2 separate regions of the Homo sapiens genome follow, and region 2 is linked to region 1. The links come from fine-mapping of genetic effects on gene expression. A gene starts in region 1. The other region holds a variant in brackets. All regions are shown on one strand. Distances are from middle to middle. Region 1 holds the start of TMEM240 (transmembrane protein 240). Region 2 overlaps SSU72 (SSU72 homolog, RNA polymerase II CTD phosphatase).

Region 1 (4,254 bases):
AAGACAGAAAAACAGAACAGCTTCACCAAGAAAGAAGATGGTGTGTTTGGAAAGCCCGGGAGCCAGGCGGGCGGGCGCTGGGAGAAGCTGCTGTGTGGCCGCAGAGGCTCCTGCGCTCCGCCTGGCCCACCCAGCATGGCTTCTGGTCCCCACGTGCCTCACGGTCCAGTGTGGCTGCTGAAGCGCCAGGGACGGTCTTCATGATCGCCTGGCAGGAGAAAAGGTCATAAGAAAATGTCGTCCCAGAAGTTATTGCACGATTTCTGCTTGGGTCACGTTGGCCAGAGCTGAGTCACAGACAGGCCGCTCCTTGCTTAGAGGCACTGGGTGCTGGCCAAGGCTGGGGACCAGGGGACAGTGGAGATGGCGAGTAACGAGCTGCCGGTGCCAGGGCAGGTGTGCCTAGGAGCCGGGCCTGCTCACTCTGGGGCAGCGGCCCTCTGCCAGGGGCTCTGGTGGATGGAGGCCAGGATGCTCCGATGACCAGGCTGCCCCCGCTCGCTTGTTGGTGGTGTGGAAGCGCTGGCGGTGAGGGTTGGTCGGCCCCGCTGTGCATGTGTGGGTCTGAGCCCTGGCCGCCAGGTCTCCGTGCTGGGCCCCTCTCAGAATCCAGCTCCAGGCTCCTCCCAGCTCCTCCCAGCTTCAGGTCCTGTGAGGGTCGGTGGGGAGGTGGGGGCTGCCCGGGACGCTCTCCCCCTGCAGCCTCCGGCCGTCCTTGTGAGGCAGCAGCGGTGGGGTGAGGGCCTGCCTGCTGCGCTGGTTTCTGCTGGCTCAGGCCTGGCGTTTCCCTGGCGATCCAGGTGTTAGGGGGAGCAGACAGGCAGGAGTGGGCAAGGCCCTCACCACGGTCCTGTCCTTGCAGATCCAGCACACGGAAGACATGGAGAACGAGATCGACGAGCTGCTGCAGGAGTTCGAGGAGAAGAGTGGCCGCACCTTTCTGCACACCGTCTGCTTCTACTGAGCCCAGCGCCCGCATGGAGCCGCCTCTGGAGCTTCCTGTTGTTCATACTTTTTCCTTCCTGACATTTGTTTTTACTTACAGGTGTTCTGCTGGTGACGGTAGCATTACCCAAATAAACTGTGCATATGAAATGGGAGAGGAGATGCCAAAACGCCAGATGAAAGCAATCAAGTTTCTTCTTTTCCACTTTTACTTATGAGCAGGATATTGATTACAAAGTTTTTCTTCTTTAACCAAAAAGGAAAGACAACGGTTTGTGTGCACTTCCCGACATACCTGTGTCTTCGTGTGCCTGCCTTCCCTCCCTCCTCCCCACCGGGCCGGACTGTACAGAGCCCTGCTGCGGCGTGTTAGGAATGACCTGGAATTGTCAATAAACAGATGCTGCTGTCATTGTGCCTGGTCCTGAATTCCTGGCCCGACCCTCGCCCCTGAGGAGGTGGCAGAGGCCTAGCCCTGCCGCCCTCAGTGACCTCCGACCACTGCTTGGGAGGAGTAGCTCAGACCTGGTGGTGCTGACAGGGTCTGGGCCTACCCGTGCCTGTGCTGCCTGAAGCGGAAGCCGCCTGCTCCTGCCACAACTGCTGCCTGTGGTGGAGCGGCGTCCCCTCTCCATGTGGAACCCCCCCGGGCGGGGATCCCCCAAGGCCAGCTACGGGGGAGGCTGAGCCGGGAGGATCGCCTGAGCCCAGGAGTGGAGGCTGCAGTGAGCCTGGATGGCGCCACGACCCAGGCTGGGTCCCAGGCATAGCTTCCCGCTGACTTCCTGCTGAGGCCGGGGGTCGGCTCCCGGGCCTGAGACATGGTCACCGGTCGTGGATGAGAGTTTGGCCTCAGGACCCCGAGCCAGGGACAGCCACAGCGGAGTGGTGGCCACTGGGCCTCTGAATGGCCGGCGTCCCGACCCATGGGCCTGGGCTGACCCCCTCGTCCCCGCCCTAAGGGAAGCCTGTGCGGGGCGGCCCTGCCCTCGGCTCCTGTGCCACATCCCTCCGTTGAGGATTCCAGGGGTCATCCCGTCCCTGACCTGTGGCCCCCACGGCCGTGGGGCTGTCGCGACCTTGCGGACCCCACCCTGGAGGCACGTGCGTGCCGAGCGGACTGGGGCAGTCCCGCACCCGGCGACCTGGGAGTCCAGGACGTAGGGCGGAGCAGTGGGGCGGGAAGGGCCTCGGCGCCCCTCCAGGACCGGAGGACTGGCGTCCAGGGTCACCGGACAGGCCACCGGGGCTGGGTCTGACCAGACTGGGGCGGGACGCGAAGCCGAGGCTCCCGGGGAGGGGTCCCGGCCGGCGTCCGGGGGATGGCGGTCTCCTCCCGGCGCTGGCACGGGGCGGCCTGCGGTCTGCGCGGTCCCTCCCGAGAGGCGGAGGAAGGCGGCGGGGAGGGAGGGGGGAGGAGGGAGGAGGAGGCAGGGAGGGGGCCGGAGCCGAGCGGAGCCGAGTCGAGCCGAGCCGAGCGCATCGCAGGGAGGACCCGAGGGCGGAGCGGAGCGCGGCGGGCCGGGCCGAGAGACCCCAGAAAGGCCCCGCGTCCCTCCCCGGCGCCCCCCCCCCCGCGCCTCCTCCCCCCGGCCGGTGCCGGGGTTGCAGCGAGCGGCGGCGGACGATCCAGGGAAGCGCTGACCTCTGCGGAGGCGGCGGGGGCTCAGCATCGGGCCGGGGCCGGGGGGGCGCCGGGGCCGGGGGGCGGCGCTCCGGCCCGGCCCGGCCCCGCCCGATGTCCATGAGCGCGAACACCATGATCTTCATGATTCTGGGGGCGTCGGTCGTGATGGTGAGCGGAGGGGCTTCCCGCGCGCGCCCCCTGCTCCCCGCCCGCGCGCGCCGCCTGGCCCACCTCCCGCGCCTTGTTTACCGCCCGTGCGGCCTGCGCTCCCCTCCCCGGCCTGCGCTCCCCTCCCCGGCCTGCGCTCCCCTCCCCGGCCTGCGCTCCCCCACCCCGGCCTCCGCTCCCCTCCCCAACCTGCGATCCCCACACTCCCTACGCTCCTCTCTCCGGCCTACGCTCCCCCCACCCCGGCCTGCGCTTCCCCCTCCCCGGCCCGCGGTCCCCTCCCGGGCCTGCGCTCCCCCCACCCCGGCCTGCGCTCCCCTCCCCAGCCTGCGATCCCCATACCCGCTGCGCTCCCCCTACCAAGGCCTACGCTCCCCTCACCCCGGCCTGCGCTCTCGCTCCCCGCTTGCGCTGCCCCGACCCCGGCCTGCGCTCCCCACCCCCAGCCCCGCTTCGTCCCGCCCGCTCCTTGGCGCTGACCGGTCATGAGCTCTTCCAGGCCATCGCGTGCTTGATGGACATGAACGCGCTGCTGGACCGATTCCACAACTACATCCTCCCGCACCTGCGGGGCGAGGACCGCGTCTGCCACTGCAACTGTGGCCGGTGAGTCCACAACCGGCGCCGGCTCGACACGCGTGAGCGCACATGTGTGGCGGGGCCCACTCGGGGCGCGGGGGAACCAGCCCCACGCAGGCCGCGAGCCGCCTTCCACCCTTGAGGGCTGCCAGGTGCGCAGGGGGAGGAGCTGTCTCAAGGTGGGCGGGGGTCTCCTGGGGGCGCATGGCTTTAGGACGCCGTTCCTAGAGGCCTCCAGGGTGATGGCGGAATGGGTCACGGGGCCTCCTGGTCCAGCCTGGAGGCCGGAAAGCCGCAGCCCAGTGTGATGTCCACAGTGGAGACCCAAGCCAGCCTCATCAGGGCTGGGGCAGGAAGCGCCTGCTGGCACAGGGCTGGGCCCTGCACTGAGTCCCTGGGCAGGGGAATGCAGGTCAAGGCGGGAAGGGCCTGCCTTGAGGGGCACTGGGCACCACCCCCGGGCTGGAGAGGAGCTGAGGGATGGGCTGGGGGGGCAGCGGGGAGGTGGAGCTTCCTCAAGGTCATTCAGATTGAGGGGAGCGCCCAGACCCCCCGCACCCACCGTGTGACCCCCTCTGTGCACGTGTAGCGATGGGATCCTCTTGGCCATGCATGTTTGTACGTCCATGTACGAAATAAACATCTTCTCATGAGACGCGCATGTGTGTGGCGTCTGTGCATATACATGTGCGTACACACAGCCCCCGCGCACGCACGCATGCACTTCCACCCCTCAGGACACCCTCACGCAGTGGCCGCTGTTAACCCTGCTGAACAGATGAGGAAGTGGACGGAGGATTTAGAGGACAGGCTTTTCCAAGGTCACACAGCTAGTGAAGGACAAAGGGGGCACCAGCCCAGAACCCGTGTTCGTCATCTCTGCTGCCTCCTGCTCCGGGGGTCTCTGTGCATACGTGTGGGTGTGGGGCATGTGT
Region 2 (4,254 bases), 29 kb before region 1:
CAGGAGAATGGCGTGAACCCGGGAAGCAGGAAGCAGAGCTTGCAGTGAGCTGAGATCCGGCCACTGCACTCCAGCCTGGGTGACAGAGCGAGACTCTGTCTCAAAAAAAAAAATTATTTAGCTATCTTGTTAATAAAATCAGGTTTAGCGGCTACTTTAAAGACATGCCAGTCATAACCTCGCTGAGACGATGACTGAAGATGACCAAGTCCTTTTTAGTTCAGAGTGGCCAGTGGCCGTTGCTGGCAGAGCTGTGGTCTCTGGAAAAGGAGCGGAGAGCACCTCTGAATAATGAATTCTTGGGTGTGCTTTTACCTGTGCCGCCATCATTCAAATTTACTCATAAAAGAGTAGACTCAGAAGAGAGTCAAAAGGAAGTAAATTTAAGGTGACATCTATTATGGATATCATGAATATGGATATCATGAAGTTAATTTAGACATAGACCTTCAATTTCCTTTTTTTTTTTTTTTGTTGAAGTCGGAGTCTCCCTCTGTCGCCCAGGCTGGAGTGCAATGACACGATCTTGGCTCACTGCAACCTCTGCATCCCAGGTTGAAGCGATTCTCCTTCAAACCCTCCGAGTAGCTGGGACTACAGGCGCCTGCCACCACTCCCAGCTAACTTTTTTTTTTTTTTTTTTTTTTTTTTTTTTTTTTTTTTGAGATGGAGTCTCACTCTGTCGCCCAGGCTGGAGTGCAGTGGCGCGATTTCAGCTCACTGCAACCTCCGCCTCCCGGGTTCATGCCATTCTCCTGCCTCAGCCTCCTGAGTAACTGGGACTACAGGCACCCGCTACCACGCCCGGCTAATTTTTGGTGCTTTTAGTAGAGTCAGGGTTTCACCGTGTTGGCCAGATGGCCTCGATCTCCTGACCTCGTGATCCGCCCGCCTCGGCCTCCCAAAGTGCTGGGATTACAGGCGTGAGCCACCGCGCCCGGCCAAATTTTTTGTATTTTTAGTAGAGATGGGGTTTGACTGTGTTGGCCAGGGTGGTCTCGATCTCCTGACCTCGTGATCTGCCCGCCTTGGCCTCCCAAAGTGCTGGGATTACAGGCGTGAGCCACCACGCCCAGCCTGCTTGTTGCAGAAATTCTTACTGTAGAAAATGAAAGTGGTCTCTCAGAGGTACCATTTTGGTGTCCGTCTGTCTCCATGTGTTCACGCATGCATCGGGGATAAGCTCTTGTTCTGTTGTCTGCTCCATAGTTAGTATTCACATCATTAGTTTCCTTTTTTTGCCACGAGATGGCTTATTTTCATTATTCATACAAATAATTTTCTATAATACCCCAGTCAAACGGGAGAATTTGGCAGTCCGATTTTGGGGTGGGGGGGGTCCCTGCAGAGACTCACAGACTGGTGGCATTGGCGCTGAGTGCCCAGGTTCACAGCACAGCTTGTGGCTTGTGTCCATCTTGCATGTGGCTCTTCCTCCATGTCATGACTGGGGTCTCGGGGGTAACGGGCAGGAAATCCTTCAGACTCTTAGGAAATTTCACTCCACTTCTCCTGGCCTCTGGTCGGCAGGGTGTTCTTCCATGTCTCGGTTTTCTAGCTTGGCCTTATTGAAGTTGGAATTTATGTCTGTTGTCATTTTCCCTTTTTTTTTTGTTTTTTTTTTCAAGCCAGAGTAAGGCTGGAGTGCAGTGGCGTGATCATAGCTCACCACTTCACCCTTGAATATCTGGGCTAAAACGATCCTCCTGCCTCAGCGCCCCAAAGCATTTGGATTACAGGTGTGAGGCACCGCACCCAGAGCATTTTTGCTTTTGAAAATTACCTGTTTATGTCCTTTGTCTATTGATTTGGGTTTATTTAGAGAGTTTTAATACTCAGAAACTCTGTGTGATAGTGCTTTTCTGTTACACTGGGAAAGCTTGTGAAAGTCAGATTTAGAGAGTCTTTTAGGCGTTAAAAATGATGTGAAAAGCGTAGGAAATGCTTATGGTAAGTGAAAAAAGCAGGAAAATTGTATGCAGTTGGGTAGGGCTACATAAAACTGCACAGGAAAGCTGAAATAAAATTGTCAGAAGGAATTGTAGTTAACTGAGCAGGCACAGTAGCT[AGCTG/G]ATCAGTGAACCTCGCCCCTTTTAAAAATTTTGGGCCTGGCAAGGTGGCTCTTCGGCCTATAGTCCAGCACTTTGGGAGGCTGAGGGAGGAGGATTGCTTGAGCCCAGGAGTTTGAGCCCTGGGCAACACAGTGAGACCCGCTATCATTACAAAACATTTTAAAACTTAGCCACATGTGGTTGCACATGCCTGTCATTCTGGCTGCTTGGGAGACGGGGCAGCAAGATCACTTGAGCCCAAGAGGTTGAGGCTGTGGTGAGCTATGACTGTGAGCTGTGACTGCGCCACTGAACTCCTGGCTGGACGACAAACCAAGTCTCTGTCTCTAAAAACAGACACAGTAACAATTTCACCCTATTGAAAATCAGCGTGGACTCTATTTTCCTGATAAATCCAAGTGATAGTAAGTGTCGACATGTTAGCGTTCTCTGGGGTGATCATCTTTGGTGTTAGAGACTAAATTGTTTCAAATACCAGAGTCCTGGGAGTCCTCATGTTTCAGGGCAGCGCCAGAAGACTCCGCCGTACGTTTCCACAGAGCCTCCTGCGCTTGGTGCTCCAAGGATTAAAGTGTCCCCTTGGAACCAGTTAGGTTTTTTGTTTGTTTGTTTTGTGGCTTTTTGTTTTTGTTTTTTTGTTTTTTTCTTTTATTTTATTTTTTGAGACGGAGTCTCATTCTGTCGCCCAGGCTGGAGTGCAGTGGCAAGATCTCGGCTCACTGCAGCCTCTGCCTCCCGAGTTCAAGCGATTCTCCTGCCTCAGCCTCCTGCGTAGCTGGGACTACAGACATGCACCACCATGTCCAGCTAATTTTTTTGTATTTTTAGTAGAGACGGGGTTTCACCATGTTGGCCAGGCTGGTCTCAACCTCCTGACCTCAGGTGATCTGCCTGCCTTGGCTTCCCAAAGTGCTGGGATTACAGGCGTGAGCCACCGTGCCTGGCCTTATTTATTTATTTATTTTTACAGACAGGGTCTTACTGTGTTGCCCAGGCTGGTATTGAACTCCTGGCCTCCCAAGTAGCTGGGATTACAGGCATGAGCCACCACGCCTGGCTAGTTTTGTATTTTTAGTAGAGACGGGGTTTCTCCATGTTGGTCAGGCTAGTCTCAAACTCCCGACCTCAAGTGATCCGTCCTCCTCCGCCTCCCAAAGTGTTGGGATTACAGGCGTGAGCCACCATGCCCCGCCTGATGGCTTCTTTATGATAGTTTTTTGGAGTTTTTTTGAGACAGAGTCTCACTTTGTCACCCAGGCGGGAGTGCAGTGGCACCATCACGGGGCCCACTGCGACCTCCACCTCCCGGGTTCAAGCGATTCTCCAGCCTCAGCCTCCGGAGTAACTGGGATTACAGGCGCGCACCACCACGCCTGGCTTTTTTTATTTTTTTATTTTTTTTTTAAAGTAGAGACGGGGTTTTGTCATGTTGGCCAGGCTGGTCTCAAACTCCTGAGCTGAAGTGATCCACCTGCTTGGTCTCCCAAAGTGCTGGGATTACAAGCCCTCTGATAGATTTTTGGTACTTGTAAAGACAGTTGTTTGGCATACCAGACAAATACTTGTCTGGAAGATTAGTTTACAAAGGCGTTGGCCCTTCAGGCGAAGCCTGTTGGTGTCAGGAGTGTTTTCCAAGCTGTCCTTGCTTTTATGTAAGAAACGCTGTTGAGTCGCAAGCTGGCTGCCCTGTCGGTTGCATCAGTTTGGGAGAAATACTGCTTCTGTTGCTAAATAGCCTTTTTGCCATTCGTGAACCTTTTGTTGGGGGAAAAACAAACTGCATTTTGTTTTTAAATAGGCTAACTTAAAGGAACGTCCAGCAGGTGGTGAGTTCTTGTTGGTGTTGGGAGGCAGGCTGTCTCCTTTGGCTGCTGTGATCACGCTGATCCTGGGCTTCTTTGTGCGATTTTTTTTTTTTTTTTTGAAACAGAGTATCGCTCTGTTTCCCAGGCTGGAGTGCAATGGCGCGATCTCGGCTCACTGCAACCTCCGCTTCCGGGGTTCACGCAATTCTCCTGCCTCAGCCTCCCGAATAGCTGGGATTACAGGCGTGTGCCACCATGACTAATTTTTGTATTTTTAGTAGAGATAGGGTTTCACCATGTTGGCCAGGCTGTTGTCGAACTCCTGACCTCAAGTGAGCCACCGCGTCCGGCCCTTGTTTGTGCTTTGACGGAACATA

Evidence for each region. PIP is the estimated chance that this variant, and not a neighbour inherited with it, causes the effect.
Region 2: its variant is fine-mapped to the expression of TMEM240 in whole blood (TOPMed, PIP 0.93).

Annotation. Positions count from the first base shown.
Region 1 is chr1:1,538,776-1,543,029 of GRCh38, reverse strand. TMEM240 (transmembrane protein 240) reads left to right here and starts at 2,406. Exons shown (of 4, transcript NM_001114748.2): 1 at 2,406-2,740; 2 at 3,240-3,346. The coding sequence starts at 2,684. It overlaps SSU72 (SSU72 homolog, RNA polymerase II CTD phosphatase), which reads left to right. Exons shown (of 5, transcript NM_014188.3): 5 at 863-1,357. The coding sequence ends at 964. RefSeq lists a silencer at 3,527-3,821.
Region 2 is chr1:1,567,654-1,571,907 of GRCh38, reverse strand. The region is part of intron 1 of SSU72 (SSU72 homolog, RNA polymerase II CTD phosphatase); the gene reads left to right. Among named protein-coding and RNA genes, the nearest start is that of SSU72, 5.1 kb to the left of the region's middle. RefSeq lists an enhancer at 922-1,423. The variant AGCTG/G (reference allele first, on the strand shown) is at 2,069.